Linked DNA regions of Homo sapiens. The protein of the gene in region 1 interacts with the protein of each later gene in a pairwise test. Each region holds a gene or a part of one and is shown in the gene's direction. Other genes may lie near its edges.

Evidence for each region.
Region 2: the proteins of CLCN7 (region 1) and SLC66A2 interact in binary tests that used the Homo sapiens proteins (3 or more experiments, as listed by UniProt).
Region 3: the proteins of CLCN7 (region 1) and LYVE1 interact in binary tests that used the Homo sapiens proteins (3 or more experiments, as listed by UniProt).

What each region holds. Positions count from the first base shown.
Region 1 is NC_000016.10:1,470,881-1,480,929, reverse strand, and holds the start of CLCN7 (H(+)/Cl(-) exchange transporter 7), read left to right. Parts: upstream 1-5,901; 5' UTR 5,902-5,955; coding exon 5,956-6,096; intron 6,097-9,166; exon of another isoform or gene 9,167-9,306; intron 9,307-10,049. UniProt on the Homo sapiens protein: Slowly voltage-gated channel mediating the exchange of chloride ions against protons. Functions as antiporter and contributes to the acidification of the lysosome lumen and may be involved in maintaining lysosomal pH.
Region 2 is NC_000018.10:79,947,418-79,957,386, reverse strand, and holds the start of SLC66A2 (solute carrier family 66 member 2), read left to right. Parts: upstream 1-5,733; 5' UTR 5,734-5,806; intron 5,807-6,356; exon of another isoform or gene 6,357-6,361; 5' UTR 6,362-6,460; coding exon 6,461-6,663; intron 6,664-7,825; exon of another isoform or gene 7,826-7,868; intron 7,869-9,969.
Region 3 is NC_000011.10:10,557,738-10,567,041, reverse strand, and holds part of LYVE1 (lymphatic vessel endothelial hyaluronic acid receptor 1 precursor), read left to right. Parts: intron 1-2,667; coding exon 2,668-2,839; intron 2,840-2,962; coding exon 2,963-3,102; intron 3,103-6,241; coding exon 6,242-6,547; intron 6,548-7,147; coding exon 7,148-7,226; intron 7,227-7,744; coding exon 7,745-7,931; 3' UTR 7,932-9,304. UniProt on the Homo sapiens protein: Ligand-specific transporter trafficking between intracellular organelles (TGN) and the plasma membrane. Plays a role in autocrine regulation of cell growth mediated by growth regulators containing cell surface retention sequence binding (CRS).

The sequences.
Region 1 (10,049 bases):
ACCGAAAATACAAAAAATTAGCCAGGCTTGGTGACACGCACCTATAATCCCAGCTACTCGGGAGGCTGAGGCAGGAGAATCGCTTGAACCTGGGAGGCAGAGGTTGCGGTGAGCTGAGATCATGCCACTGCATTCCAGCCGGGGCAACACAGCGAGACTCCATCTCAAAAACAAAACAAAACAAAACAAGCACAAAGGCAGGGCACACCCATGAGAAAAATACCTTTTTTCAAAGAATGTTGTTCATGGTATTTCAGAAAAAGTATTGTAGTGTAATCACTGGGGAATTCAAAACCCTTTTAGATTTCCTTCCTCTTATTTTGGGCTTAGTTTTGGTTTTATTTTGATATAAGCAAGGGAGGGTTCCATTATCTTCTCAGCTTTAGAGGCTCTAAGGAACTTTTATTTATTTATTTATTTTTTTTTTTTTTTGAGACGGAGTCTTGCTCTGTCACCCAGGCTGGAGTGCAGTGGCACGATCTCGGCTCACGGCAAGGTCCGCCTCCCAGGTTCACACCATTCTCCTGCCTCAGCCTCCTTGGTAGCTGGGAGTACAGGTGCCCGCCACCATACCTGGCTAATTTTTTTGTATTTTTACTAGAGATGGGGTTTCATCGTGTTAGCCAGGATGGTCTCAATCTCCTGACCTCGTGATCCACCCGCCTCGGCCTCCCAAAGTGCTGAGATTACAGGCGTGAGCCACCGCGCCCGGCCTCTAAGGAACTTTTAAACTTTTGATTTGGAAAAATTTCAAGCCTAAAAAAAGTTGCAGATGAATACATTGCACATCATATATATTTATTCTAGACTCTTCAAGTGTTATCTTTATTATTATTTTATTTATTTATTTATTTATTAGACAGAGTCTCACTCTGTCACCCAAGCTGGAGTGCAGTGGCGTGATCTTGGCTCACCACAAGCTCCAACTCCCGTGTTCACACCATTCTCCCGCCTCAGCCTCCCAAGTACCTGGGACTACAGGCGCCTGCCACTGCGCCCAGCTAATTTTTTTTTTTTTTTTTGTATTTTTGGTAGAGACGGGGTTTCACCGTGGTCTCCATCTCCTGATCTCGTGATCCGCTCACCTCGGCCTCCCAAAGTGCTGGGATTATAGGCGTGAGCCACCGCACCCGGCCGGCTTTATTTATTATTTTTAAACTTTATTTTAGGTTCAGGGGTACATGTACAGGTTTTTTATATAGGTAAACTCATGTCATGCGGGTTTGTTGTACACATAATTTCCTCACTCAAGTACTAAGCCTGGTACTGGACAGTTATTTTTATTTGTTTTTGAGATGGAGTTTCGCTCTGTCGCCCAGGCCGGAGTGCAGCCGCACCATCTCCCCTCACTGCAACCTCCGCCTCCTGGGCTCAAGTGATTCTTGTGCCTCAGCCTCCCAAGTAGCTGGGATTACAGGTGTGTGCCACCACACCTAGCTAATTTTTGTATCTTCAGTACAGACAGGGTTTCACCATGTTGGCCAGGCTGGTCTTAAACTCCTGACCTCAAGTGATCCACCCACCTCGGCCTCCCAAAGTGCTGGGATTACAGGTGTGAGCCACCACGCCCAGCCCAATATTTTGTTATTTTTTTCGGCTCCTCTCCCTCCTCCCGTCCTCCACCCTTCAATAGGCCTCAGTGTCTGTTTTTTTCCCTTTGTGTCCATGTGTTCTCATCGTTTAGCTCCAACTTATGTGAGAACATGCGGTATTTGCTTTTCTGTTCCTGGGTCAGTTTACTAAGGGTAATGGCCTCCAGCTCTATCCATGTGCCTGCAAAGGACACGATCTCATTCTTTTTTATGGCTGCATAGTATTTCATGGTATACATGTACCACATTTTCTTTATCCAGTCCACCACTGATGGGCATTTAGGTTGATTCCATGTCTTTGCTATTGTGAATAGTGCTGCAATCAACACACGCGTGCGTGTGTTTTTGGTTTTGCTTTTTTTCTGAGACAGAGTCTCGCTCTGTCACTCAGGCTGGAGTGAGGTGGTGCAATCTCAGTTCACTGCAACTTCCATCTCCTGGATTCAAGCGATTCTCCTGCCTTAGCCTCCCAAGTAGCTCAGGTTATAGGCGCCTGCCACCACACCTGGCTAATTTTTGTATTTTTAGTAGACATGGGGTTTCACTATGTTGGCCAGGCTGGTCTCAAACTCCTGACCTCAAGTGATCTACCTACCTCAGTCTCCCAAAGTGTTGGGATTACAGGTGTGAGCCACTGCGCCTGGCCTGCATGTGTTTTAATGATAGAACAATTTATATTCCTTTGGGCATACACCCAGTAAGGGGATTGCTGGGTCAAATGTTAGTTTGGTTATCAACATTCAAAGCCTGAATTTTAAACAGGTTGTTGGGCTGGGGGCTCATATCCGTCAGCTCATTCACATTTAGCACTGGTCTCATCCCCAGTAGCTTTTCCAGGACAGCGACCTTCACCACAAAGCTTGAGTTTTCCCAATGCAAGCCTGGGCTTCCCAAGCATTTTTACTTTTCTAAGGAAGACATCCTGGAGAGGATACCTGGATAGACTGGGGAACCTTCTCTGTGTCTCTCCCAGTGCTGTCTAGCATCAATTCATGGGCCACTTCTTTCGAGTAATTTGTCTGCACCTCTTGGGCCATGATTTCCACCATCTTTTCTGGATTTGACGGGCCTGCCAGTGCTGCCTGTGAGAGGTCTTCCCAATCTGCTTGCTGCACTGTTTTAGTAAAAGCAGCACAGAACAGATGAGGCAAATGATCATCTGTAGTTTTGACAACCATATGAGCTTCAATCATGGTCTTTTTTTTTTTCCATGAAAGCTGGTCAGGCTGTTTTTGCACTGAACATCCTCAGTGATTAGCTTGAATTTTCCAGATGCAACTTCACCATTCTGCAGATGAGCAGTACTGACTTCAAAAACACGGCCCTTGAGGCCATCGGGTGTGATTTTGGTTCCTGACGTCCCTGTGCCTGGTGTTTTCCATACTCCTTATGCCAAGCACAGCTGGTGCTTTCGCCTCATGCCAGTCTCTCTCAGACAGTGGACCAACCTCTTTCTTCTTGGCTCCCTTCCTGCCACTTCGGTTAAGGTGCTCGTTCTTGCCTGCTGCATGGTGGTGCAGACAGCCAAGGGCCAGATGTTAACATTGCCATTTTCCCTCCCTCTCAGAAGGCTGCTACTCATTATGATTATTGTCAGGTTTTGAATTGTCCGAGTGTAAGCTGCAGACATAGCAACACAAGGTCCCAAGTATTTCAGTATGTATCTCCTAAGATCGGGGAGCTTTCCTGACGTAACCACAATATAATGATCACGCGTGGGAGATTTACTACTGCTCCAACACCGTTAGCTCATACAGTGTATGTCCAATCTTTGCCAATTGTCTCAACCATGCCAGACCCACGTGAGGTTGTCTCCTCAGCCTCTCTTTGTCTCTTTCACAATACTGACATTGTGGAAGAAGATGGCCTAGATGTTCAGCAGGCTGTCCCTCAAAGTGGGATTATCTGGTGTTTCCCCTTTATGAGTGGACTCAAGGTGAGCATGTTTTGCAGGAATGCTCCGGAAGGGACGTTGTGTCCTTCCTGGTGCATCACATCAGGAGGCACACGATGCCACCTTATCCCATCACCAGCAATGCTGAACTGGGTTGCTTGGTTCAGGTGGCGCCTGCTAGGTTTCTTTTTTCCCTTCACCGTTAAGAAATGCTGACCCTGGGCCGGGCACGGTGCCTCATTCCTGTAATCCCCGCACTTTGGGAGGCCAAGGTGGGTGGATCACCTGAGGTCAGGAGTTCAAGACATGCCTGGCCAACGTGGAGAAATCCCATCTTTACTAAAAATACAAAAATTAGGCCTGGCGCCATGACTCATGCCTGTAATCCCAGCACTTTGGGAGGCCAAGGCAGGCGGATCACAAGGTCAGGAGATTGAGACCATCCTGGCTAACACGGTGAAACCCCGGGTCTACTAAAAATACAAAAAATTAGCCGGGCGTGGTGGCGGGCGCCTGTAGTCCCAGCTACTTGGGAGGCTGAGGCAGGAGAATGGCGTGAACCCGGGAGGCGGAGCTTGCAGTGAGCCAAGATCACGCCATTGCACTCCAGCCTGGGCAACAGAGCGACACTCTGTCTCAAAAAAAACCAAAAGGAAACAAAAAAAAGAAAAATTAGCCAGGTGTGGTGGCGGGTGCCTGTAATCTCAGCTACTCGGGAGGCTGAGGCAGAAGAATCATTTGAACCCAGGAGGCGGAGGTTGCAGTGATCCAAGATAGCGCCATTGCACTACAGCTTGGGTGACAAGAGTGAAACTCCGTCTCAAAAAAAAAAAAAAAAAAGAAGGAAAAAGAAAAAAGAAATGCCAACCATGGCCGGGCATGGTGGCTCATACGAAGAGTCCTAGCAACTCAGGAGGCTGAGGAAGGAGGATCCCTTGAACCCAAGAGGTCAAGGCTGCAGTGAGCTATGATCTTGTCATTGTACTTCAGCCTGGGTGACAAAGTGAGACTGTGTCTCAAAAATAAAAAAATAATAATAATAATTTAAAAAAAGGCCGGGCACCGTGACTCACGCCTGTAATCTCAGCACTTTGGGAGGCCGAGGCGGGTGGATCACGAGGTCAGGAGATCGAGACCATCCTGGCTAACACAGTGAAACCCCATCTGTACTAAAAATACAAAAAATTAGCCGGCCATGGTGACGGGCGCCTGTAGTCCCGGCTACTCGGGAGGCTGAGGCATGAACCCGGGAGGCAGTGAGCCGAGATTGGGCCACTGCACTCCAACCTGGGCGACAGAGTGAGACTCCGTCTCAATAATAAAAATATCGACCTTTTAAAAGGAAGAGGATGAGGCACAAAATATAAAGAGTTTACTCTAGAGGCTAACGTGGAAGGATCACTTGAGGTCAGAAGTTTGAGAACAGCCTGGGCAACACACTGTGAGCTCCACAGCAAAAATTAGCCGGGTGTGGTGGTGCAGGCCTGTGGTCCCTGTTACTCCAGAGGCTGAGGCGGGAGGATGGCTTGAGTCCAGGAGGTCAAGGCTGCACTGAGCTGTGACCGCACCACCGCACTCCAGCCTGGGCGACAGAAGGAGACCCTGTCTCAAAATAAATAAATAAATGACCCAGAAGGTGGGGACAGGGTGGGGGCTGATGTAAAGCTGTCAAGAATTCTCTTTGGTTTATGGAAATACCATTGATTAGTGATGGGCTGTGCCCTGGTGCGGGTACAGGGTCCGGGCGGCTATTTGGCTAATTCACAGCTATCTGCGTAGTAGCCGGCAGTTTCCAGAGGCGACCCTCCTGTACTGTCTCTGGGGCCTGATCGTTGAAGAGGACTCGCCTTCTGTTCTTTTCTCATTAGGCGGGAGGACCCTCTGGGGCTGCCTGGAGGAAGCCTCCACTCCGACCCTCGCCCGAGTGCCTACTGCGAGGGCGGATGCATGCTTCGGGACTTCTAATTTCATCCTTCACGTCTTTAGCCGCCGCCTATGGCAAGGAAAGGCCTGCCCTCGCCCCTGCCTCCCTCCTCCCTTCCCCACCGCGGCTCCGTCACGATCGGCGCGGGCGACCGGGCCTGGGGGAGCCCCTCCAGCCGGCTCCTGCCCTCAGGCCCCGGGCGCTTCCCTCGCCCCGACTCCCGGGCCCGAGGTCCCGGGGGCGGCCATTCGCCTCCCAAGCACTCGGCGCTCAGCCCAACGGGGCCGCCTTTGCAGTCGCGTGGGCAGAACGGGGTCCTCAGGGCCGCGGCGATTCTCTAGGGCGGGCGGCGCCACGACCCGCCGGGAGCGCGGCTCCCAGGAGCCCCCGCGCGACCGGGCCTCGGTGGTTGCCGTTGCAGGTCACATGGTCGCCGTCGCTCATCACGTGGCCCCGTCGCGCGTCACGTGGCCGCCGGCGCGGGTCACGAGAACAAACACGGGGGCAGCCGGCGCTTCCCGGCCGGTGTCGCTCCGCGGCGGGCCATGGCCAACGTCTCTAAGAAGGTGTCCTGGTCCGGCCGGGACCGGGACGACGAGGAGGCGGCGCCGCTGCTGCGGAGGACGGCGCGGCCCGGCGGGGGGACGCCGCTGCTGAACGGGGCTGGGCCTGGGGCTGCGCGCCAGGTGAGGCCGGGCAGGGCGCAGGCGGGGAAACTGAGCCCTCGTGCGCCCCGCAGCCCGCGCCCTCGTGAGCCTTCTGGCGGCGCCGCGTGTCTCGGTCCTGGAGGCGACCGAGGCGCGGTGGACTCGGGAACGCGCCCCGGGGCTCCTCGGCGGGGCCGGGCTGGCGGGGGCGCCTGGGGTCTGGAGTCTTCGGAGGCCGCGCCGGGCTCGGTGGCCGGGAGGGCTGCGTGGGCGAGGCGGAGCTCGCCAGACCCCGCGGAATGTGGGGCGCTGAGGGGCGCCGGGGCAGCCGTGGCGCACGTTCATTCCCTCCGGTGTCCCCCAGACTGGCCCTAAAGGGGTGCAAGTGGCTTTCTGTTCAGGTGACTTTTAAAAATTGTCATCCTACACGAGCAACTAATTTTGTTTGCGTTTTTGACCCCCTGGGAGATGGAAACAGTTAAGATTGCAGCCGGGTCACTGTCTTTCAGTGAGAATGACTGAGCGCCTTTATCTGCCATCTTTCTGTGTGGGGATCAGTCCCGACTTTCAGGTGATCTTGGGAGTGACGAGTATTTGTACTCAGTCTCCCTTCGCACCGAGTTGAATTTGCAATGTGCAGGCAAACACAATAAGCAGCAAGTCAGAGGTTGGAATGCGTTCCGCATGTCACCCTGCAGCGTGCGTCTGAGCAGTGTTAAGGTCTGGAGAACCGTTGCGGGTACATTTGTTTCCCTGTCTGTGTATTGTCTTAATATTTTTTTTTTTTTGAGACGGAGTTTCACTGTAGTTGCCCAGGCTGGAGTGCAATGGCGCGATCTCGGCTCACTGCAACCCCCACCTCCCGAGTTTAAGTGACTCTCCTGCCTCAGCCTCCTGAGTAGCTGGAATTACAGGCGTGCGCCACCGCGCCCGGCTAATTTTGTATTTTTAGTAGAGACGGGGTTCCTCCGTGTTGGTCAGGCTGGCCTCGAACTCCCGACCTCACGTGATCCCCCGCACCTCAGCCTCCCAAAGTGCTGGGATTACAGGCGTGAGCCACTGCGCCTGGCCGTATTGTGTTACTTTTGAGTTAATGGACCGTTTTGTTGATGGGTCTTAATCTGCTTTGCAGTTATTCTTTACATTTTCTCTTGTCTAGTCCTTTAAACACTTGTCTTGTGCTTAAAGATTAGGAAGGACGGCAGGGCACGGTGGCTCACATCTGTAATCCCAGCACTTTGGGAGGCCGAGGCGGGTGGATCATGAGGTCAGGAGATTGAGACCATCCTGGCTAATATGGTGAAACCCCGTCTCTACTAAAAATACAAAAAATTAGCCAGGCGTGGTGGCGGGCGCCTGTAGTCCCAGCTACTCGGGAGGCTGAGGCAGGAGAATCAATTGAACCCGGGAGGCGGAGCTTACAGTGAGCGGAGATGGCGCTACTGCACTCCAGCCTGGGCAGAGCGAGACTCCGTCTCAAAAAAAAAAAAAAAAAAAAAAAAGTTTAGGAAGGACACGAAAATCAGCCTGTTTCCATAGAACCTACATTTAGGTTTTCCCAATTCCTTAGAAACGCACCAGACAAAGAAGGTCATAGTCTGCCTTTTGCTGATAAGAAGCAGCAGCTCAGCTCCCTTTGAAGTGGGCCCTCCTGCTCTCCGTGCTGTAGTCTGCATGAAAAGTGATCTGAAGGGGTTAATTTGAAGTGATGGGGCCATGGGTGATTAGTTATTTGTGTGTATGCCTGTGTGTGTATGTGTATGCCTCTGTGTGTGTGTGTGTGTGTTTCTGTTTTAAAAGAAAGGCCAGGTGTGGTGGCTCATGCCTGTAATCCTAGCACTTTGGGAGGCCAAGGTAGGGGAGGATCACTTGAGCCCAGAAGTTCAAGACCAGCCTGGGCAAAATAGTGAAACCCTGTCTCAAAAAAAAAAAAACAAAATTAGCCAGGTGTGGTGATATGCATCTGTAGTCCCAGCTACTGGCTCGGGAGGCTGAGGCAGAGGAGTCGCATGAGCCCAGGAGGTTGAAGCTGCAGTGAGGTGCTTTTTTTTTTTTTTTTCCGAGGTAGTTTGTCACTCTTTTGCCCAGGCTGGAGTTTGAGAACCTATCTCAAAAAATTTAAAAAAAATTTTTTTAATTAAAGAAATCTGAAGTTCACAAGGTAGAAGGAATAAACCCAACTTTAAGGGCTGAAAGGTAAAGATTAGGAACCTTGATGGAGGTTGAATTTGAGTTTCTCTTGGGACTGAATGTGCTTGGGGTTTCCTGTCTGTCTTTGCAAATAGAAGAGTTGATTTTTTGGGAAATAATCTGTTGATCTCTTAACCTTAGAAAGTATTCCCGGCTGTGCACGGTGGCTCATGCCTGTAATCCCAGCACTTTGGGAGGCCGAGGCAGGTGGATCACCTGAGGTCAGGAGTTCGAGACCAGCCTGGCCAACATGGTGAAACCCCATGTCTACTAAAAATAGAAAAATTAGCCGAGTATAGTGGTGAGCGCCTGTAATCCTAGCTAGTCAGGAGGCTGAGGCAGGAGAATCGCTTGAACCCAGGAGGCAGAGGTTGCACTGAGCCGAGATCACGCCATTGCCTGGGCAACAAGAACAAAACTCCATCTCAAAAATAAAAATAAAAAAACTATTCCCTTAAAAGTCATTGTAAGCTTATTTGTTTGTTTGCATTTAATAACAGCGGATACTCTGCTTACAAGCAATTTAAAAAATAGTTTATCGTGCACTTGCTCTGTGGCTGCCTGGGACGCAGGCGCATAAAGCTGCTTCCTTCCTGCTGGAGACAGGCCCAGTGCCCTGTGCGGATGGTCTGCAGGGCCCCTGGGGCAGGAGCAGTCACAAGGCTTGGGCTTGAAGAGCACAAGATCTTCAGGCAGGCGGACGGGGGGAAAGGACAGAGGGAGTGTGTGTTTGGGATGCGCTGTGGAGCCTGGAGGTCAGCCCTGCTGCGCACATGAACAGGCTTTGAATTTGGCTCATCTCTAGGGGAGCCCATGGGAAGCTAGGACCCCATTCCTGAAGGGCCCCAGCCTTCCCCTGCAGACAGACTGGAGAGGCGGAGTCTAGAGGCCAAGACACCACCTCTTAGGCCAGGCGTTTGTGCTCTGAGCATCGGACTCGCCGATGGCCTCCTGCAAGGCCTGTAGCCTCCCTGTTGCCCAGTTTTCCCGTCTGCGAAAAAGTTAACGCATGCATAGCGCTGAGCACGGTGCCTGTCACAAACTACGCTCTGAAGAAACGTGAGTCGTGCCCGGTCGTGTTAAAACCAGCAACACAAGAGGGATTCGTGTTCGTTGTGACTTTCCTGTCCAACTTCCTGAGTAGCTACTGGATTTCTTGGTGCTGCTTTTCTGGGGGAGGGTCTGCTCTGACTGGTGGGCACAGCTCACAGTTAGGCTCAGGCGCACCCCAGTGTGGCCACAGACGGGGTACTGTAAGCTGCCCTTGGGTTCAAGGCCTCCAGAGCTGTTTTGAGCTAAAATATCAACCCAGGCCATCCCCTGCTGACGGGACTGTTCCAGTGAACATGAGAACTGGTCCTAGCTGCCTCCAGGCTCTTTAGGGTTTGTTGCAGGATTTTCAGGTTGGCTGGTGGTGTCGTTGCCACCTCAGCGTGGGCACAGCTGGCCAAACACTATGAGGTGGCTGCCCTGGGCAGGGCAGACTGTGGAGTGGCTTGTTGGAGGCTGGGTGCCCGCTGAAAGCCCAGGCCCTTCAGAGCTGCCTGTGGGTTGCTGTTCCTGTTCTCAGGCCGGTCTTGCTTTGTGTGGTGTAGTGGTGAATTGACCAAGCCAGTCACTGCTCATCTGGTGGTGTTGGGACAGGGCGAGGGTGAGGTCAGCCAGCCCTGGCCGTGTGTGGGCGGCAGGAAGCAGAACTCCTTGAGAACTGAGAGGGAAAGCGGCTGGAGCCAGAAACACTTGGGTCTCAGGGGGCAGTGAGGGGAGGTGGGTATTTGCAGGACATCCCTGGGAACTCATGT
Region 2 (9,969 bases), on another chromosome or scaffold:
TCTCTTCTCTAACATTTCTCACAGGGCAGGTCTACCGGCAATACATTCCCTCAGTTTTTGTTTTTCTGAAAAAGTCTTTATTTTTCCTGCACCTTAAGGATACTTTTGCTATATGGAATTCTAGGTGGGCAGATTTTTTTTTTTTCAACTGCAACACTTTAAGGATTTCACGGCCAGGCGCAGTGGCTCACGCCTGTAATCCCAACACTTTGGGAGGCCGAGGCAGGCAGATCACGAGGTCAGGAGATCGAGACCATCCTGGCTAACACTGTGAAACCCCGTCTCTACTAAAAATACAAAAAAATTAGCCGGATGTGGTGGCGGGTGCCTGTAGTCCCAGCTACTCGGGAGGCTGAGACAGGAGAATGGCGTGAACCCGGGAGGCGGAGCTTGTAGTGAGCCGAGATTGCGCCACTGCACTCCAGCCTGGACAACAGAGCGAGACTCTGTCTCAAAAAAAAAAAAAAAAAAAGATTTCACTCTACCCTTTTGTTATCCGCATGATTTCTAACAAGAAGTCCACGGTCATTTTTATTCATATTCCTCTTGTTAACTTAAAAAATCACACAACACTGCATTTAGAAAAGGAGACTATTTCTTAAATAACTTGCAAGATAGACATCCCACAAGACCAGACACAGGCCCTTCAGAGGAGGAGAGGATGGGGCACGAGCTTTATGCTGACTTGGTTGGCTAAATATACTTAATAGGTTACATGAGGAGCTATGAATATTCATGAAGGGGGTCTTGCTGTATGTATCACATGACCCATGTTCACTTTGGGGTAGAGATGTAACATTTACATGTATTACAGTTAGGCCCTATACATCAAAAGGTCTTTCTAAGACTCAAAGGCACTTGGTGCACAGAGTTTGTAAACCAGCCGGGACCAGCCATGGTCAGTGGTCTCTTACCAGGAGAGTTACTGAAATCTGTCTCTTGTCTTGTCAGAGGTGTAGCTGTGGCTGGTGGACGAGGGTTCAGTCAGGCAGGTTTATTCAGTTTGAATGTGACAAGCCTAGGTGTGGTTTTTTGTTTTGTTTTGCTTTATGTTTTTTGTTATTTGTCCTGATGGATGTTCTGTATGTTTCCTGGATCTATGGTTTGGTGTCTGTCATTAATTTGGGGACATTCTTGCCATTCCACCATTTCTCCTGCCCCTTCTCCTCTTTCCTCCTTCCGATTCTCCCATTGTACCAATCATATCCTTTGATGTTGTTCTTGGATGGTGTTTTCTGTTGGTGTATTAGGCTGTTCTTGCATTGCTATAAAGAAATACCTGAGACAGAGTAATTTATAAAGAGAAGAGATTTAATTGGCTCACAGTTCTTGCAGGCCATACCAGCATGGCACCAGCATCTGCTCAGCTTCTTGGGGGCCTCAGGGAACTTTTACTCATGGCGGAAGGCAAAGTGGGAGCAGGCATTTCACACGGTAAAAGCAGGAGCAAGAGAGAGAGAGAGTGAGGGTGTGGGTAGGTGCCAGACACTTTAAAGAAAAACAGATCTCAGGCGGGCGCGGTGGCTCATGCCTATAATCGCAGCACTTTGGGAGGCCGAGGTGGGTGGATCAAGAGGTCAGGAGTTTGAGACCAGCCTGGTCAACATGGTGAAACCCCATCTCTACTAAAAATACAATAAATTAGCCAGGCATAGTGGCACAAGCCTGTAATCCCAGCTACTCGGGAGACTGAGGCACAAGAATCACTTAAACCCAGGAGGTTGCAGTAAGCTGAGACTGTGCTGTGCCACTGCACTCCAGTCTGGGCAACAGAACGAGACTCCGTCTCAAAACAAAAACAAAAACAAAAACAGATCTCACATGAACTCAGAGTGAGAGCTTACTCATCACAAGGGGATGAAGCGATGGTGCAAGCCATTCATGAGGAACCCGCCCCCATGATCCAAACACCCCCTGCCAAGCCCCACCTCCAAAACTGGTGATTATAACTCAACATGAGATTTGGTGGGGACACACACTCAAACTAGATCAGTTGATTTTTTTTTTTTTCATCACCTTTTCTCCTTGAATTTCAGTTTGGGAAGTTTCTGTTGACTTATCTTCATATTCACTGATTCTTTCCTTCATTCTGTCTAGTCAACTAATGAGCATTCTTTATTTCTATTGTGTTTTTGACTTCTAGCATTTTTTTTTTATTATTGTTTCCATCTTTCTGCTGATATCACCTATCTGGTCTTGCATGTTGTCTAATTTTTCTGCTAAAGCCAGTTTATCCAGGAGTTTCTGCTCTGGGTGAGCAGCTCTCAGGTGCTGTCTCTCCCTGGATGTGCCTGTCTCTTCAGAGCAGGGTGCCAGTTTGTCTGGCAGCCTTAGTTCTCTGATGGGCCCATGAAAGGCTGCCCTGCTATTCTTTGCTGTAAGGATGGGGGTGGTGACTGCCAAGCACGTCACATGACACCAGTTGAAGTTGCGGAACTTCTGAGCCAGGCTCCTAAAGTGAGACTTCCAATCCACCTTCCGTACAGGTTTCCTTAAAAAATGGGGTGCGCGACCAGCAAGGTGGCTCACTCCTGTAATCCCAGCACTTTGGGAGGCCTAGGTGAGAGGATCCTTTGAAGCCAGGAGTTCAAAGACCAAACTGGCCAACATAGTGAGCTCCCCGTCTCTATAAAATAAATAAATAAAATAAAAAGAAATAGGCTGAGTGAGAAACAGTGGCTCCAATCTTCCTCTGATGTCCCAGCTCTCAGAACAAGGTTGCTTTGTTTGCTTTTCCTTTTATAAGCACCATGTGTTAGGCAAATTCTTAAGTGGTTCCCTGAGGTATTCATGCTCCTACGTGACACCTTAATCTGCACCGGGCCAACCCAGTGACCTGTTTCTCATGAGCAGAGCCTGGAAAGCATGAGGCACAGCTCTGCTTCCTCTGTGTCACAGCTCTGATCTTGTCAGTCACTCATTGGCTCCTGCAACAAATGACCACAGCTAAGTGGCTTTTACAACAGCAGAAGTTTATTCCTTCACAGCTCTGGAGGCCAAAAGTCCAAAATCACTTTTAATGTGCTGAAATCAAGGCATTGGCAGGGCCAGGCTCCCTCGCATGGCTCCTGGGGAGAATCTGCTCCTTGTTTCTGGGGCCTCTGGTGGCTCCGGCGTTACTTGGCTTGGGACTGCATCACGTCAATTTTCAAGGCCCCATCTTCATCTCTGCTCCATCTTCCCATGGCCCTCTCTTCTGTGTGGCACCAAATTTCCTTCTGCCTCCCTCTTACAAAGATGCATGTGGCCGGGCACGCTGGCTCATGCCTGTCATCCCAGCACTTTGAGAGGCCAAGGCAGGAGGATCGCTTGAGGCCAGGAGTTCAAGACCAGCCTGGCCAACACAGAGACCCTGTCTCTGTTGTATGTATTTATTTTTGAGATAGGGTCTCACTTTGTCACCGAGGCTAGAGTGCAGTGGTGCGATCCTGGCTCACTGCTGCCTCAACCTCCTGGCCTCAAGCAATCCTTCCACCTCAGGAGTAGCTGGGACTACAGGTGCACACTACCATGCCCAGATAATTTTTCTATCTTTTGTAGAGACGAGGTCTCACCATGTTGCTCAGGCTGGTCTCGAACTCCTGGGCTCAAGAGATTTACCTGCCTCAGGCTCCCAAAGTGCTGGGATTATAGGCGTGAGCCACAGTGTTTAGGGCCCACCTGGATAATCCAGGACAATCTCTCTATCTCAAGATCCTTAATGACATTAGAAAAAAAAATTGTTTTCCCATACGAGGTAATATTTACAGGTTGCCTGGATTAGGACTTGATGGCTTTATAAGGGCCATTTTCCAGCTGTGCATGGCTTGGTCGGCTTCTCTTGTTTGCAGGAAGCTATGTGACAAGCGCAGCACCTGCAATGAGCTGTGATTGGCTGATGTAGACTGGGGGTGGGGGCTCGGACCCCCGGCAGGTGGTGTTCGAAAAGGTACAAACTCACTCTGCAGTCATCAACTCACCTTTCGGGGTGCCTCTGAGGCGTGAGGCCTGTGGGGTGACGTCCGAGCATGCCAGATTTCGTCCACTGAGCCGGGCTCCTGGAGGCCCCGTGCACAGATGCAGCTCTAGGCCCCAGGCTGCGGGCACAATTTGCCCCATGCCTCCACAGCCTCTGGATTTAAGATAACCGAGGATAGCGTCTGGGACCCCAGTGCTCCCGTGAGGGTCAAGGAGGTCCGGAGCTTACTCCAACCTCCAGGGCAGAGAGGACAGATGATCCCAAAGGCTGCTGGGCTCAGGCTAGGGCGCGGCTGAGCAGGGGCAGCTGCTTTTTCTCTCCCAGGCTTCCTGCTGTGCCTTTTACTCACCTCTACGTTCCTGGTGCTGGGGCTCCGCAGCGCTGGCTCTAAAGAAGTTCCAACGCCAGCCTGGGGGCGCAAGGCAGGAGCGCCCTGTTTCCTCGATTGTTGGGGATTTGCTCCTAGTTAGGTGGTGACTGTCCTTATGATCCCCCATAAAACCAGTCGGGCAGGGGGCAGGGGGCAGGGGGCCGGGATCGTGGAGAAGAGGCCGCGGCTGGCGGGGAAGCAACCCTCAGCGTGGACCCCTCAACCTCGCGGCTCGCCCCTTACCCGTGCACCCCTCGCCTCACACCCCCGCGCCCCTCACCCACGCGTCCCTCACCCTACACACACCCGCCCATCACTCGCGCACCCTTCACCCCTCACCCACGCTCCCCTCACCCTTCACCGGCGCGCCCCTCACCCCTCACCCCTCACCCAGGCGCCCCTCACCCTTCACTCGCGCATCACTCACCCCTCACCCCTCACCCACGCTCCCCTCACCCCTCACCCCTCACCCGCGCTCCCCTCACCCCTCACCCGCGCGCCCCTCACCCCTCACCCGCGCTCCCCTCACACTTCACCCGCGCTCCCCTCACTCTTCACCCGCGCGCCCCTCATCCACGCGCCCCTCGCCCTCAGTCCTCACCCGCGCGGGCCAAGAGGGTCCCGGGCGAGGGCAGCTCCCCGCGGGCGGGTGTGGGGCTCGGAGTTGGCTTGGCACGCGAGGCCGGCAGCAGGGCCCGGGCTTCACGCACGCCTGGCCCCCGAGTCTGTCTTGAGGCTCAGGAGCTGCCTTTTCTGCAAATAGGCGCCCAACGGTTCAGCCCGGAGAACTACACGGGGATGGGGAGAGGCCGCCCCGCGTTTCTGCAGCGACAGCGACCGTGGCCGCAACCACGATAATGACAATGGCCACGGTGACGGCCGCGCGTCCAGCCGGCCCCCCGGCGACGGCCCCGGCGCATCTGCTCGTGGGGCACTTGCATCGGAGCGGAGACCCGCGGGGGGCGCTCCGTTTCCCGAGACCCCGGCCGCCTCTGGGCGCTGCAAACTCCGAGCCGGGTCCCCGGGTCTCCTGGGTCAGGACAGAGCTGGACGAGACTCGTCCCCGGGTGGCCCGCATTCAGGACACGCGTGAGAGGGGCGTCCGGACCCCGCGCCCCCGGCCCTCCAGGACGACGCCCTCCGCTTGGATGGCCGCGCGCCGGGACAGCTGGAGACGGGTTAACGTGGGCGCCAGGCCTGAGGGACCGGCCCCGCCCGGCTGGTATTTCCCGACCGGGCGGGAGGAGCCACGCGCCCCCACCGCCCCGACAGCCCCGGCTCCCGGCCCCGCCTGCGCCCGCCCTGCCCAGCGCGCTCTAGGACACCGCGGCGCCTCCGCGCAGCTCCGGCGTGGGCGGGGCCCGGCATTGTGACGTCACGGGGCGGGGTTTCCCGGCGCCTGAGCGGACTGACGCCGAGACGCGCGCGGGTCAGCGGCGCGGGGACGCGGGGCGCTGGGCGCGGGGCTGGGGGCGCAGGTAAGGAGCGCGGGGGCGGCGCGGGGTCCTCGGGGGGCGGCCTAGGGCGGCCGAGGACGCAGGGCCGGGGCAGTTGGTCGCGGCCTTCAGTCCCCTGGCTTGGTCCTGTGGGGTCCCCGGCCCGGCACCTCCTCCCGCGAGCCGTGCGCCCCCATCCTGGGCCTGCGCCCCCTTCCCCCGAGCCGTGCGCCCCCATGCTAGGCCCTGTGACCCTCCCCCGAACAGTGCGCCCCGATCCTGGGCCCTGCGCCCCCTCCCCCACCCCATCCCGGGGCGCGCGTGGACCCCCGCCGGCTAAGCGCACCCGGGCGGTGACCCCAGGGGCTTCGCCCGTCCTCGACCCCGGCGCTGGGACCCCTCCCCAGCCCCCTCCGGGAGCGTCTCGGGACCCCCAGACACCCCCCCGTCCCAGGCAGGGGCCGCTCCTCGCGCGCCCCGGGCCCCGGTCGCCCCCGCTCTGCCTCGGGTCCTGCGGCTGGCGCGGGTCGGGTCGGGTCCGTGCGCGCCGCCCCAGCCTCCCTGGGCGGAACTCGAGCAGCTCCCCGCTCCCCGCAGGCCCCGAGGCCGCAGGAGCGCGCGGAGCGGCGATGAGCAGGCGGCCGGTGGCCCGCGGGGCGCGGAGCCCGTGACAGCCTCGGCCAGGCGGGCGCTGCGATGGAGGCCGAGGGCCTGGACTGGCTCCTGGTGCCACTGCACCAGCTGGTGTCCTGGGGCGCGGCCGCGGCCATGGTCTTCGGAGGGGTGGTGCCCTACGTCCCGCAGTATCGGGACATTCGCAGGACGCAGAACGCCGACGGCTTCTCCACCTACGTGTGCCTGGTGCTGCTGGTGGCCAACATTTTGCGGATACTCTTCTGGTAAGTTGGGGGCTTGCTTTCCTGGGCTGCACCCGGAGAAGAGGGTTTCTCCTTTGGGGTTTCTGGTTGAGGCCGGGGGAGCAGCAGGGTCCACACCTCCCTGCTGGGCCAGCGTCCCACTCTGCCGTGGATGGGGTACGTGGCTGCAGGCAAGTCACTTCTTAGGGTGAGATTATTTTTCCAGAAAAACGGTGGGGTTGGAGCACAGAATCTCAGAGAAAATCTCCAGATCCGCCTCCTTGCATGATGTTCCACATGGGTACTTAGCAGGGACCTCTCAGCTGGGCACTGGCCTAGGCCTGCCTGTGGAGAGGAGCCGTTCCTGCCCTCCTTTTTCATGTTGTATAGTTTTTCTTTGTTGTTTTGAGAGAGGGTCTTGCTCTGTGGTCCAGGCTGAAGTGCATGATGACATGACAGCTCACCGCAGTCTCCACGTTCCTGGGCTCAGGTGATCCTCCCATCTCAGCCTCCCGAGTAGCTGGGACCACAGGCGCACCACCACACCCGGCTAATTGTTTTTTTTGTATTTTTTGTAGAGACAGGGGAGTGGGGGGTTGTCTCACTTTGTTGCCCAGGCTGGTCTCGAACTCCTGGCCTCAAGCATCCCTCCCCACTGGGCCTCTGAAAGGGCTGGGATTACAAGCTGAGCCACGGCGCCTGGCCTGCCTTATTTAAATAGGAAGTCACTCTCTCTGGAGACTGTCTTGTTCCTCTCCCCAACTTCCTCTTTGTATTTGTATTAGGCTAAGGAAATTGAAATTAATTTTAACAGTTGTTGAAGGCAGACATAATTGGGAGGGTGAGTTTTCAGAGGAAATGAGGTCTCACAGCTGCATTCTAAGGCCAAAAACGTCTGAAATTTTTCTTTCTTCTGGGTGATCCCAGCCTCTCTGTCCGGGCAGATTGGAAGGTGTCTGCTGCTCTTCCTATGAAGAGGGCCTGGTGGAGGGGTGGAGAGAAGGAGTCCAGGCAGCTGGTGTCAAGAACTCTGCTTCTGACTCTGGTCACTGAGTAATCACGTACCTGCTTCTTTGCCTGTTAGTTTTGTTTTGTTTTTTTTTGAGACAGAGTCTTGCTCTGTCGCCAGGCTGGAGTGCAGTGGTACAATCTCGGCTCACTGCAGCCTCTGACTCCTGGGTTCAAGTGATTCTCCTGCCTCAGCCTCCTGAGTAGCTGGGACTACAGGTGCCTGCCACCATACCCAGGTAATTTTTGTATTTTTAGTAGAGACCAGGTTTCACCATGTTGACCAGGATGGTCTCGATCCCTTGACCTCATGATCCACCCACCTTGACCTCCCAAAGTGTTGGGATTACAGGCGTGAGCCACCGCGCCTGGCCCGCCTGTTAGTTTTTAAGTCAACCTTATTGAGGTGTGATTTGCATTCCATGAAATACACCCCTTTCGTGTCCATTTGATGAGTTCTGATGCTGAGGTGTCCCGTGTTCATGAGCCGGGGTGCTCCCTGCTCCGTGGCCTTCATCCCAGCCCTGGCCATGGGCAGCCATTGGTCCATGTGTCCCTGGGTGTTAGTTTTGCCCCTGCCAGGGATTTTTAGGTGAGCGAGTGGGTTGGCTGCCTCTTCCCCAGAGTTGTCTCTGAGGCAGGGAGGTTTGTCCCCTGCAACGACCTCGGAGGAGGATTTTGGGTCCGAGTCCCGTCTCGAGGTTTGTCTCTGGGCCAGGCTGCATCTGAGGGAGGTTCAGGGGTGCTCATTTTGGAGACTCCTTCTTTCTTTCCCATCGCCTGCTTTGGAGACGTGGCTGGCGGTGCTGCAGTGGCCTCAGTGAGCGTAAGGTTGACTGGAAGTAGGTTTCTAATTGTCTAATGCTGTTGTTTACTTTGAGTGCATGTTGTGGGGGTTGGGGAGACGCTGGTCGGCAGGCCACCTGCTACAGCCCCAGCTCACGTGTGTGTTGTGAAGGAGCGCTGCACTCGTCTTCAGGGTTATAGAATAAATTCTCTCCAAAATAATGGAGGAAAATTGCCTGAGAGTGGATAACCATACGGGAAAGAAGTTCCGCTTAGAGGTTTCCCTCCCCAGTATGCTCATAGTTCAAAGTTGCTAAAAGAAAATAAATTAGGTTGGGCACGGTGGCCCGCTCCTGTAATTCCAGCACTTTTGGAGGCCGGGGTGGGAGGATCACTTGAGGCCAGGAGTTCAAGACCAACCAACGCAACACAGCAAGACACCGTCTCTACAAAAAATTGAAACATTAGCTTAGGTGTGGGGGCATTACCTGTAGTCCTAGCTACTTGCGAGGCTGTGAAAGGAGGATCACTTAAGCCCAGGAATTCGAGGCTGCAGTGAGCTGTCCTCCAGTCTGGCCAACAGAGAGAGACCCTGTCTCAAAAAAAGAAAGAAAAGAATCTATCTAATGTCCATCTAAGTATCGGTTTGGAGAAGTCAGAGATTAACCCAGTTTCCTGGTGCCATCTTGTCATTGCCTCATGACCTAACTGGCACTGACGTAGAGGTTTGAAGCTGGAACTGGGAGTTCTTGCTTACAGGCCTTGGAGAGACACTTGAGCTCTTTCTTTGTGGAGCACAGGGCAGCCTTCCAGGGAATTCTGAACTTTGTCCATGGGTCTCTTCATAGAATCAACATCCTGGGCTGTCCTGGTCATGCATGGCTTCTGTGACCACTGAGTGCACACGCAGGGCCCCAGTGTGTTCCAGAAGATGGTGGGATGAAAGCGGGGAGAGCAGAGGGCGCTCGTTCCTGCTGGGCGTCCCTCCAGCCTGAGGATGCGCCATCCCTGCACTCCACACAGCGAAGCCCACCTCCCTACCTACCACACATCCTCTTGTGCCCACCCGGTCCCCAGGTCCTGCTGTGCAGAGGGGGATGATGACCCCTTCTGTTTCTCTCTTGGGAGCCTCTTGTGACCCCCCACTCCTGGCTTCCCCTCTCCAGGCTTTGTAGGTTCACAGCCTCTTTGATTTCATGGTTTGTAGGGCAGAGGATTTGTGCTTTAGCAGAAGTGACACGCGGGATGCATCACACACAACCCCAGCTCCACGCATGCGCAGGCACACTCGGTGTTTGGGTTGGGGGTGGTGGGAGCAGGAGAGCAGAGGTGGGGCGGGGGCAGGCTCCGGTGAGAAGGGGCTGGGGTGGGGGCAGAGAGCAGAGGTGGGGCTGGGCTGGGCTCTGGTGAGAAGGGGCGGGAGACGGGGAGAGCAGAGGTGGAGTTCGAATCTTCACGCCTCCAAAGCTGTTGGGGCATGGTCCTCAGAGCTCCAGTCCCTCTGGGCAGCTCCCCGTTGGGGATTTGGGGTGCATGGCATATGGGGCTCTGCAG
Region 3 (9,304 bases), on another chromosome or scaffold:
GATTCCACATCCTTATATCTAACTCCTAAGCATACACTATTTCTACTATGTTTGCTGTTTCCTGAGAAATCTTAAGGAAGGAGTTACTGGAGTACTCCCTTAAATTCCAGCTCCCTCTTTTGATCCCTAAATGAAATAGGAAAGCATAAAATGACTAATGTTGTTGACTTCCTACTGGGCCCCGCCTCTGCTAGGTACAAGTTATCTAATTTAATTCTGATAAAAATCATGTGAAGAAGATATATCCATCCCCATTTTCAGATGAGAATGCTGACTTGCCTGATGTCGCAACAGCCAGTTAACAATAGAAAAAATATTCAAAGCTAAGTCTATCCACCTAGAATAAGTCTATCACTCCTCTAAATAATAGTATTTAGAGTACAAATGACATATGATGAGAGGGTAGTAAGACCAATTGATAATGTGACAAATAAACCTCTGCAATCCATTCCCAAAGAAGTAGCTATAAGAGACCTGAGCAATAGCAAGCTCATGAGCTAAAAGAGCCAAATTTCAGAGCAAACGGTGTGTTCAGGGAGTTCAGCCTAGGGGTGTGTGTGTGTCTGTGTGTGTTCATTTCCTTATAGCACTGTGAAAGGTAAAACAGTGTCATTGTTAAGAACTGGGGGCCGGGTTGGGCACGGTGGTTCATGACTGTAATCTCAGCACTTTAGGAGGCCGAGGTGGGTGGATCACCTGAGGTCAGGAGTTTGAGACCAGCCTGGCCAACATGGTGAAACCCCATCTCTACAAAAAATACAAAAATTAGCTGGGCATGGTGTCTCGCGTCTGTAGTCCCAGCTAGTCAGGAGGCTGAAGCACAAGAGTTGCTTGGACCCGGGAGGCAGAGGTTGCAGTGAGCATGGATCACGCCACTGCACTGCAGCCTGGGTGACAGAACGAGACTCTGTCTCAAAAAAGAAAAAAAAAAGGGCCAGGCACAGTGGCTCACGCCTGTAATCCCAGCACTTTGGGAAGCCAAGGTGGGTGGATCACCTGAGGTCGGCAGTTCAAGACCAACCTGACCAACATGGAGAAACCCTGTCTCTACTAAAAGTACAAAATTAGCCAGGTTTGGTGGCACATGCCTGTAATCCCAGCTACTTGGGAGAATGAGGCAGGAGAATCGCTTGAACCCAGGAGGTGGAGGTTACAGTGAGCCGAGATCACGCTATTGCACTCCAGCCTGGGCAACAAGAGTGAAACTCCGTCTCAAAAAAAAAAAAAGAACTGGGGTTCTTGCTTGGCCATACTGGTGCACACCTGTAGTTCCAGCTACTCAGGGAGGCTGAGGTGGGAGGATTGCTTGAGCCCAGGAATTTACGACCAGCCTGGGCAACATAGCAAGATCCATCTCTTGGGAAAGAAGAAGGAAAAAAGAGGAACTGGGGTTTTAGAATCAGGCATAATTGAGTGTGTGCTCCTAATCTGCCACCACAGCAAGGTTCATATGGAGGACTTAGAAATGCTCCTTCCATGTTTTCAAAAAGAAACTTCCATTAGATATCAACCTAGGAAGTGGTCAAAGCATTTGACTGAGCATCCAATACACAGAGCTGCGTACAAGCAATTACTTGAGAGATTTAAATGCCCTTTTATGGATGTTTGTGGATGAAGCCCAGTAGGAATAATGTATTTGAATACAATACAACTTGGCAATTTTATACAGGTCTGTACATCCCAGAACCCAGAGAAAAGGGTTCAAAAGAATTCCCAAATCCATTAGATTTTGAGTAGAAATATTATTCATATCTTACCTATTCAACAGCCTCAGCTTCTGTGGGGTAATCAATCATTAGCAGACCAAAACCAAAATGCTTTAACGATAATGATAATGTTATGTGGATTTATTAAGCACCTACCATGTGGCAGGCACTATGCTAAACATTTGTATTAGAATTTACTCACTTAACTTTCACTACCCTATTCAGTAGACACTGTTACTCCCTTGAATTTATAAACAAGGAGGCTCAAAGAGCTGAAGATTAAAGAGATGAAGTATCTAGGCTAAGGTCACAGAGCTAGCAAATGACATATGCTAGATCTAAGCCCAAGTCTGACTCTAAAATTCTGCTTTCTTCATTTAGTTTTTCTGCCATTCAAAGTTTACTGCCAGCTCCTCCAGGAACTTCTGAGTAAGCCTGTCCCCCAGTGGCCAAAAGACCTGGAACTGAGAGCACTCACATTCTTTTATAACAAGTGTGACATTTTCAGCCCATCTCACAAATAGTAGTGTCCCCAAACCACATTGGTTTGGGGTATTGCTAACTATTCTATGAACTAGAGCCCTGAATTCTATCTTTCTCAAAGTCTCAGATGCTTCATTTTACAGACTCCAGAAAGGTTTGCAGTAACTGCATCCCTTAGACTGCACCCCAACAACAGGTAGCCAAAGCCCCTATATGGTGAGCAAGGCATCTTAATGCAGTGGGATGGGATAGATTTTGATTGGGCGACATTTACAGCTTGGACAAGAACAAGCATCCATCTAGCCCAGCAGATGGTCCTTGTGGAAAATGCCTGGTCTGTGTCCTGTTATTCTAAACCCCAGTCCCAGCCAGATAGACCTCCCTGCGCATCAGGACGATATACTCTGCTGGGAAGGAGAGTCTAAGGGCTGGAAACAAGGACAGCAGCAAACTGAGGACCTATGTGATTCCTTTGCAGAGCTTTCCATCCAGGTGTCATGCAGAATTATGGGGATCACCCTTGTGAGCAAAAAGGCGAACCAGCAGCTGAATTTCACAGAAGCTAAGGAGGCCTGTAGGCTGCTGGGACTAAGTTTGGCCGGCAAGGACCAAGTTGAAACAGCCTTGAAAGCTAGCTTTGAAACTTGCAGGTGAGAAAAAGCTGGTTTCACTGTCACTGCTGGAGTTCTTTTTTAGCTCTGTGTTCTTGTTCAGCAATAGAGATGAAGCCTTCTAATCATTTTTCTGTTCAACTAGTGTGTATTCTTTTACAGCTATGGCTGGGTTGGAGATGGATTCGTGGTCATCTCTAGGATTAGCCCAAACCCCAAGTGTGGGAAAAATGGGGTGGGTGTCCTGATTTGGAAGGTTCCAGTGAGCCGACAGTTTGCAGCCTATTGTTACAACTCATCTGGTGAGTCTGATCTGCAACCTTTCCACGTGGCATTCTCTGGGTATCTCTCACTCTGAGACCTGTCTGGGAAGAGTAACCCTGAGCAGCAGCAGAAGCAATCACAGCCACGGCCATCTAATTCTCCCGACACTGTCTCTCTGGCCAGGCTAGGGGTGGCAATATGCCCCTCAAAGGAAAAAGTTAGGAGAGATATAACTGAATGGCAACACACGAGAAGACATTCAGGAGGCTCAATTACCACTGCCACCATCCCTGCATCCTATAAGATAAGCAGGCAGAAGGGAAGGAACAAAGGTACAGATGTATGTAATGCATCCATTATGGACAAAGTGATGCACAGTCGTCCCTCAGTGTCAGTGGGAGATTGGTTCCGGCACCCCATCATATACAAAAATCTACAGATGCCCAAGTCCCTGATATAAAATGGGGTCATATTTGCATATAACCTACACACATCCTCCTGTACACTTTAAATCATCTCTAAACTACTTATAATACCTAATACAATGTAGATGCTATGTAAACAGTCATTGTACTGTATTATTTGCTTTTTTATTGTTGTATTGTTATTTTTCTTTTTTTCCCAAATATTTTCAATCCAAGGTTGGTTGCTTCCACCTATATGGAATCTACAGATCCCTATGAGATATGCTTTATCATCCCCACTTTGCAAATAAAGAAACCGAGTTCAGGCCGGGCACAGTGGCTCATGCCTGTAATCCCAGCACTTTGGGAGGCCGAGGCGGGCAGATCACAAGGTCAGGAGATTGAGACCATCCTAACACGGTGAAACCCCGTCTCTACTAAAAATACAAAAAATTAGCCAGGCGTGGTGGCAGGCACCTGTAGTCCCAGCTACTCGGGAGGCTGAGGCAGGAGAATGGCATGAACCCAGGAGGCGGAGCTTGCAGTGAGCCAAGATCATGCCATTGCACTCCAGCCTGGGCGACAGAGTGAGACTCCGTCTCAAAAAAAAAAAAAAAAAAAAAAAAAGAAACCGAGTTCAAAGGATGTAAACACATTTGTCTAACGTCTCATTACTGTAAAGGTTCAGACTCAGGTCTAACTCTGAAACCGCACTCTTTCCACTGTTCCACATTCCTTTATAATTTTAAGAACCAGACCCAGTCTCCACTTTATGAAGGAAAAGATTGACACCTGGAGGGCAGCACTGATTTGTTCGTGGTCATGAAGTCACCCACTAACCTTGCTTGAAGACCTTGGCTGCCTTAGCCCAAGTGCTTCACCTAAGTACTTCTCCTAAAGTTTTTCTTTTACTAAATACTCACTTGCTCTCAGTTTGTCATAAGGACCCCTGTCTGATTATTACTTTTCACACATACTCATCTATCTGACCTTCTGAAGGTTAGGTGGCTGAGAGGTCATACACAGGATAGATTTCAAGATCATTCTCGAAGATCCGAGAGATAAATGTGCACCAGCCAATATTAGCAAAAACTGTCCCAGAAAGGCAATATAGGATCCAAGTAGTTCCCTGATCCAGAGGGCTTTGGCACAGAAAAGGCCCATGGAGAAACTTTGACCAGTTCCCTCACTTCATGGATGAAACAACTACAGTTCAGAACACGGGCTTAGCTTGTTCAAGGTCCTACGGTCAGTTAGTGGCAGAATCAAGACTGAAACATAGGGCTTCTCCTAACAGTGTATTTCCCATCTTCCTTCCCTTCTCTGCCTCTTTGGTCTATCATCACTGGCTGGGGAATTGGTGAGCTACATATGCCTGCATACCTCATAGCCAGCCCATGCCTGTCAAATGGCTTTGCTTTTTAACTGCCTTCCTGCCAGCTGGCAATGTGATGATACCCAGCCCTCTGACTAAACAGAGAAGAGCCAGAGGAAGAGGACTTGGATTTGTCTATTTCCTCATGGTTTCATTTAACTTGTACTCCCATCCCATGTATTTCTTTTCTTTTTTTCCAGAGATAATTTTATTTTATTATTTTATTTTTATTATACTTTAAGTTCTGGGATACACGTGCAAAATGTGCAGGTTTGTTACATAGGTATACATGTGCCATGGTGGTTTGCTGCACCCATCAACCCGTCACCTACGTTAGGTATTTCTTCTAATGCTATCCCTCTGCTAGCCCACCCCCCAACCCCAGCTGATGCTACCCACTGCCACAAATAATTAGGGACTTAAAATAGATGCAAATTTATATTATAATATATTGCATGGCTCTGCCATTTACTAGCTCTGTGACTTTGGGCGAGTTATTCAATTTCTCTAAACTTCAGTTTCCTCCTGTGTAAACAAGGGTTTAGTAATATTGTTCAATGAGATACCTATTTAAACACTTACTGCCATGGTCAACTCAGATTAAGATGCTTTAACAAGTGTTTCCTCTCTAGCACATGCAACAGATTGGAAAGCAAACCCTTATCCCTCTCCTGGTCCCTTTTTGTTCACTTCTTTTTTTAATGAGCCCAGAAATATCAGGTCTTAGCATATCTTTGTCCTGAAGTGACACCACATGTGTATATTTGGTCTTCCAATCTATACTTTCCTTCCTTTCCCTTTTCCTTCCTTCCCTATTCATCAAATAGTTATTGAGCATGTGCTATGTACCACACACAGTGCTCATACCATGCTGACCAAGACAGACGGGGTTTCTGCTGCCAGAGAGCTTGCAGTCCAGTGGGGAACAGTGTAATGAGAACTGTGACAAGGAAGTACAAGAACATATGCCAATCAAGTCAACAAGTCTGCCTGAGAAAGACAGGGTCAATCTGAGACCTGAGGGATGAGTCAGAGTAAGCTAAATAAAGAGAGGCAAAGAGTCATAAAGGTGAATAAAGCATCGTGGTGCAAGGCTTGGATGTAAGATAAAGTGTATCAAGGAATTTCAAGTAATTTCAGTATGGCAGGGGCAATGAGAGAAAAAGAGCAGATGAGGCTGGCATGTTAGCAGGGGCCAAATCACAGAAGGCCTTGTAGGCCATACAACAAAGATAGCCACTGAAGGCTTCTAAGGAAGAAAGTGATATGGTTAGATTTGCTTTTTAAAGACCATTCCAGCTGCGGTATAAGGGGTTTGGAGGTAGTAAGACTAGAGGCAAGAAGAACAGTTAGGAGGCTGTTGCAATACTTTTATTCCATGTTTCCCTATCCCAACAGATACTTGGACTAACTCGTGCATTCCAGAAATTATCACCACCAAAGATCCCATATTCAACACTCAAACTGCAACACAAACAACAGAATTTATTGTCAGTGACAGTACCTACTCGGTGGCATCCCCTTACTCTACAATACCTGCCCCTACTACTACTCCTCCTGCTCCAGCTTCCACTTCTATTCCACGGAGAAAAAAATTGATTTGTGTCACAGAAGTTTTTATGGAAACTAGCACCATGTCTACAGAAACTGAACCATTTGTTGAAAATAAAGCAGCATTCAAGAATGAAGCTGCTGGGTTTGGAGGTAAATGGTTTCTGTGTCTATGTTACGTGTGTATGTATGTTCATGTATAACAGATAATTCATAGAATCCTGCCTGTCTTTAGATGAGGCGCTCAGGACCTGTCAAATACTAATAAAAGCTTAACACAAACTCAACTTTCATGAAGTCATAGAATCTGAGAGCTGTAAAGAACCTTAGTGATTAAGCTAAAAAGTGTAAGTATAAAAGAATTTCACTGTTGAAAACTCAAGACTTTTAAAAATAAATCACTATCTGTTCCTATGCATAAGTTCTTTTTAAAATATATACCCTAAAGGCCTATGACTTTATTCTAGTCATCTCTTTCTCAGGCAGGCTTGTTGACTAGAGTAGGTCTCAAGGCCATGGAGGAGAAATGAACTCTGTCATATTGCAACTGATAGAATTGAGAGTGTGAGAAGCAAGGCCAATGATTCTACAAGCATGAAGCAAAGAAGCTGGTGTGGGCCCAATATCATAAAGGGCTACAGAGAAGGTTTTTCTCCTGTACTGTCTACTGTCTCAATCACCTGGATCATGCAATGAGCATTACACACAATGTTTAAGTGAAGGACCAACAGGCCTTGTCTCTGTTCCTTGCAGGTGTCCCCACGGCTCTGCTAGTGCTTGCTCTCCTCTTCTTTGGTGCTGCAGCTGGTCTTGGATTTTGCTATGTCAAAAGGTAGGGTTGTTGGTGCACTGCTAGTCTTGTAATCTTTGTCATGTTTCTATCCTGTGCTTTTTCAGGGTCACTGTTGGCATTTTGCTGATCAAAATGGAGATAGCAGTCCTCTGATATAAATTTCTCCCTCATCTCATCTCTTTCCCTTCAGCCCAATCTTTTCTATTTCAGGACATGCATGTCGTCCAGCCATCAGTCAATGACTGTCCTTTGAAAATCAAGAAATTAAAAAAAATTGACATCTGGGGAAAATTTATATGCTTTATTTGATTTTTGGTTCTTTGTTTTTGTTGGAAGAGTTATGTGGTCAGCCTAAAGTCTGGCCTGCAAACATATTGTCCAATTTAAATGAATCCATTAAGGTGGTGATGTCTTAATGTATTAGAGCATGCATGTGCTGGCATCACTCTGAAATAAAGGTATCCAGTGTACTGTGCCAATATGTACCATGGCCAAAAAGTGTTATCTATCGTTATGTGTGAGAGTCTCTCACTTTAATTTCATGTTTCTGCCTAAAGGTATGTGAAGGCCTTCCCTTTTACAAACAAGAATCAGCAGAAGGAAATGATCGAAACCAAAGTAGTAAAGGAGGAGAAGGCCAATGATAGCAACCCTAATGAGGAATCAAAGAAAACTGATAAAAACCCAGAAGAGTCCAAGAGTCCAAGCAAAACTACCGTGCGATGCCTGGAAGCTGAAGTTTAGATGAGACAGAAATGAGGAGACACACCTGAGGCTGGTTTCTTTCATGCTCCTTACCCTGCCCCAGCTGGGGAAATCAAAAGGGCCAAAGAACCAAAGAAGAAAGTCCACCCTTGGTTCCTAACTGGAATCAGCTCAGGACTGCCATTGGACTATGGAGTGCACCAAAGAGAATGCCCTTCTCCTTATTGTAACCCTGTCTGGATCCTATCCTCCTACCTCCAAAGCTTCCCACGGCCTTTCTAGCCTGGCTATGTCCTAATAATATCCCACTGGGAGAAAGGAGTTTTGCAAAGTGCAAGGACCTAAAACATCTCATCAGTATCCAGTGGTAAAAAGGCCTCCTGGCTGTCTGAGGCTAGGTGGGTTGAAAGCCAAGGAGTCACTGAGACCAAGGCTTTCTCTACTGATTCCGCAGCTCAGACCCTTTCTTCAGCTCTGAAAGAGAAACACGTATCCCACCTGACATGTCCTTCTGAGCCCGGTAAGAGCAAAAGAATGGCAGAAAAGTTTAGCCCCTGAAAGCCATGGAGATTCTCATAACTTGAGACCTAATCTCTGTAAAGCTAAAATAAAGAAATAGAACAAGGCTGAGGATACGACAGTACACTGTCAGCAGGGACTGTAAACACAGACAGGGTCAAAGTGTTTTCTCTGAACACATTGAGTTGGAATCACTGTTTAGAACACACACACTTACTTTTTCTGGTCTCTACCACTGCTGATATTTTCTCTAGGAAATATACTTTTACAAGTAACAAAAATAAAAACTCTTATAAATTTCTATTTTTATCTGAGTTACAGAAATGATTACTAAGGAAGATTACTCAGTAATTTGTTTAAAAAGTAATAAAATTCAACAAACATTTGCTGAATAGCTACTATATGTCAAGTGCTGTGCAAGGTATTACACTCTGTAATTGAATATTATTCCTCAAAAAATTGCACATAGTAGAACGCTATCTGGGAAGCTATTTTTTTCAGTTTTGATATTTCTAGCTTATCTACTTCCAAACTAATTTTTATTTTTGCTGAGACTAATCTTATTCATTTTCTCTAATATGGCAACCATTATAACCTTAATTTATTATTAACATACCTAAGAAGTACATTGTTACCTCTATATACCAAAGCACATTTTAAAAGTGCCATTAACAAATGTATCACTAGCCCTCCTTTTTCCAACAAGAAGGGACTGAGAGATGCAGAAATATTTGTGACAAAAAATTAAAGCATTTAGAAAACTTCTTTGCTTTCTTATTTACGTAGATGCATTATACCTTTCATGTAAAATTAAAGTGAGGACCAGATCATATCATATTGTTTGCAAAAATAAAAGGGACAATGTTGGTTGTTAAAATACAAGCATATGTCAA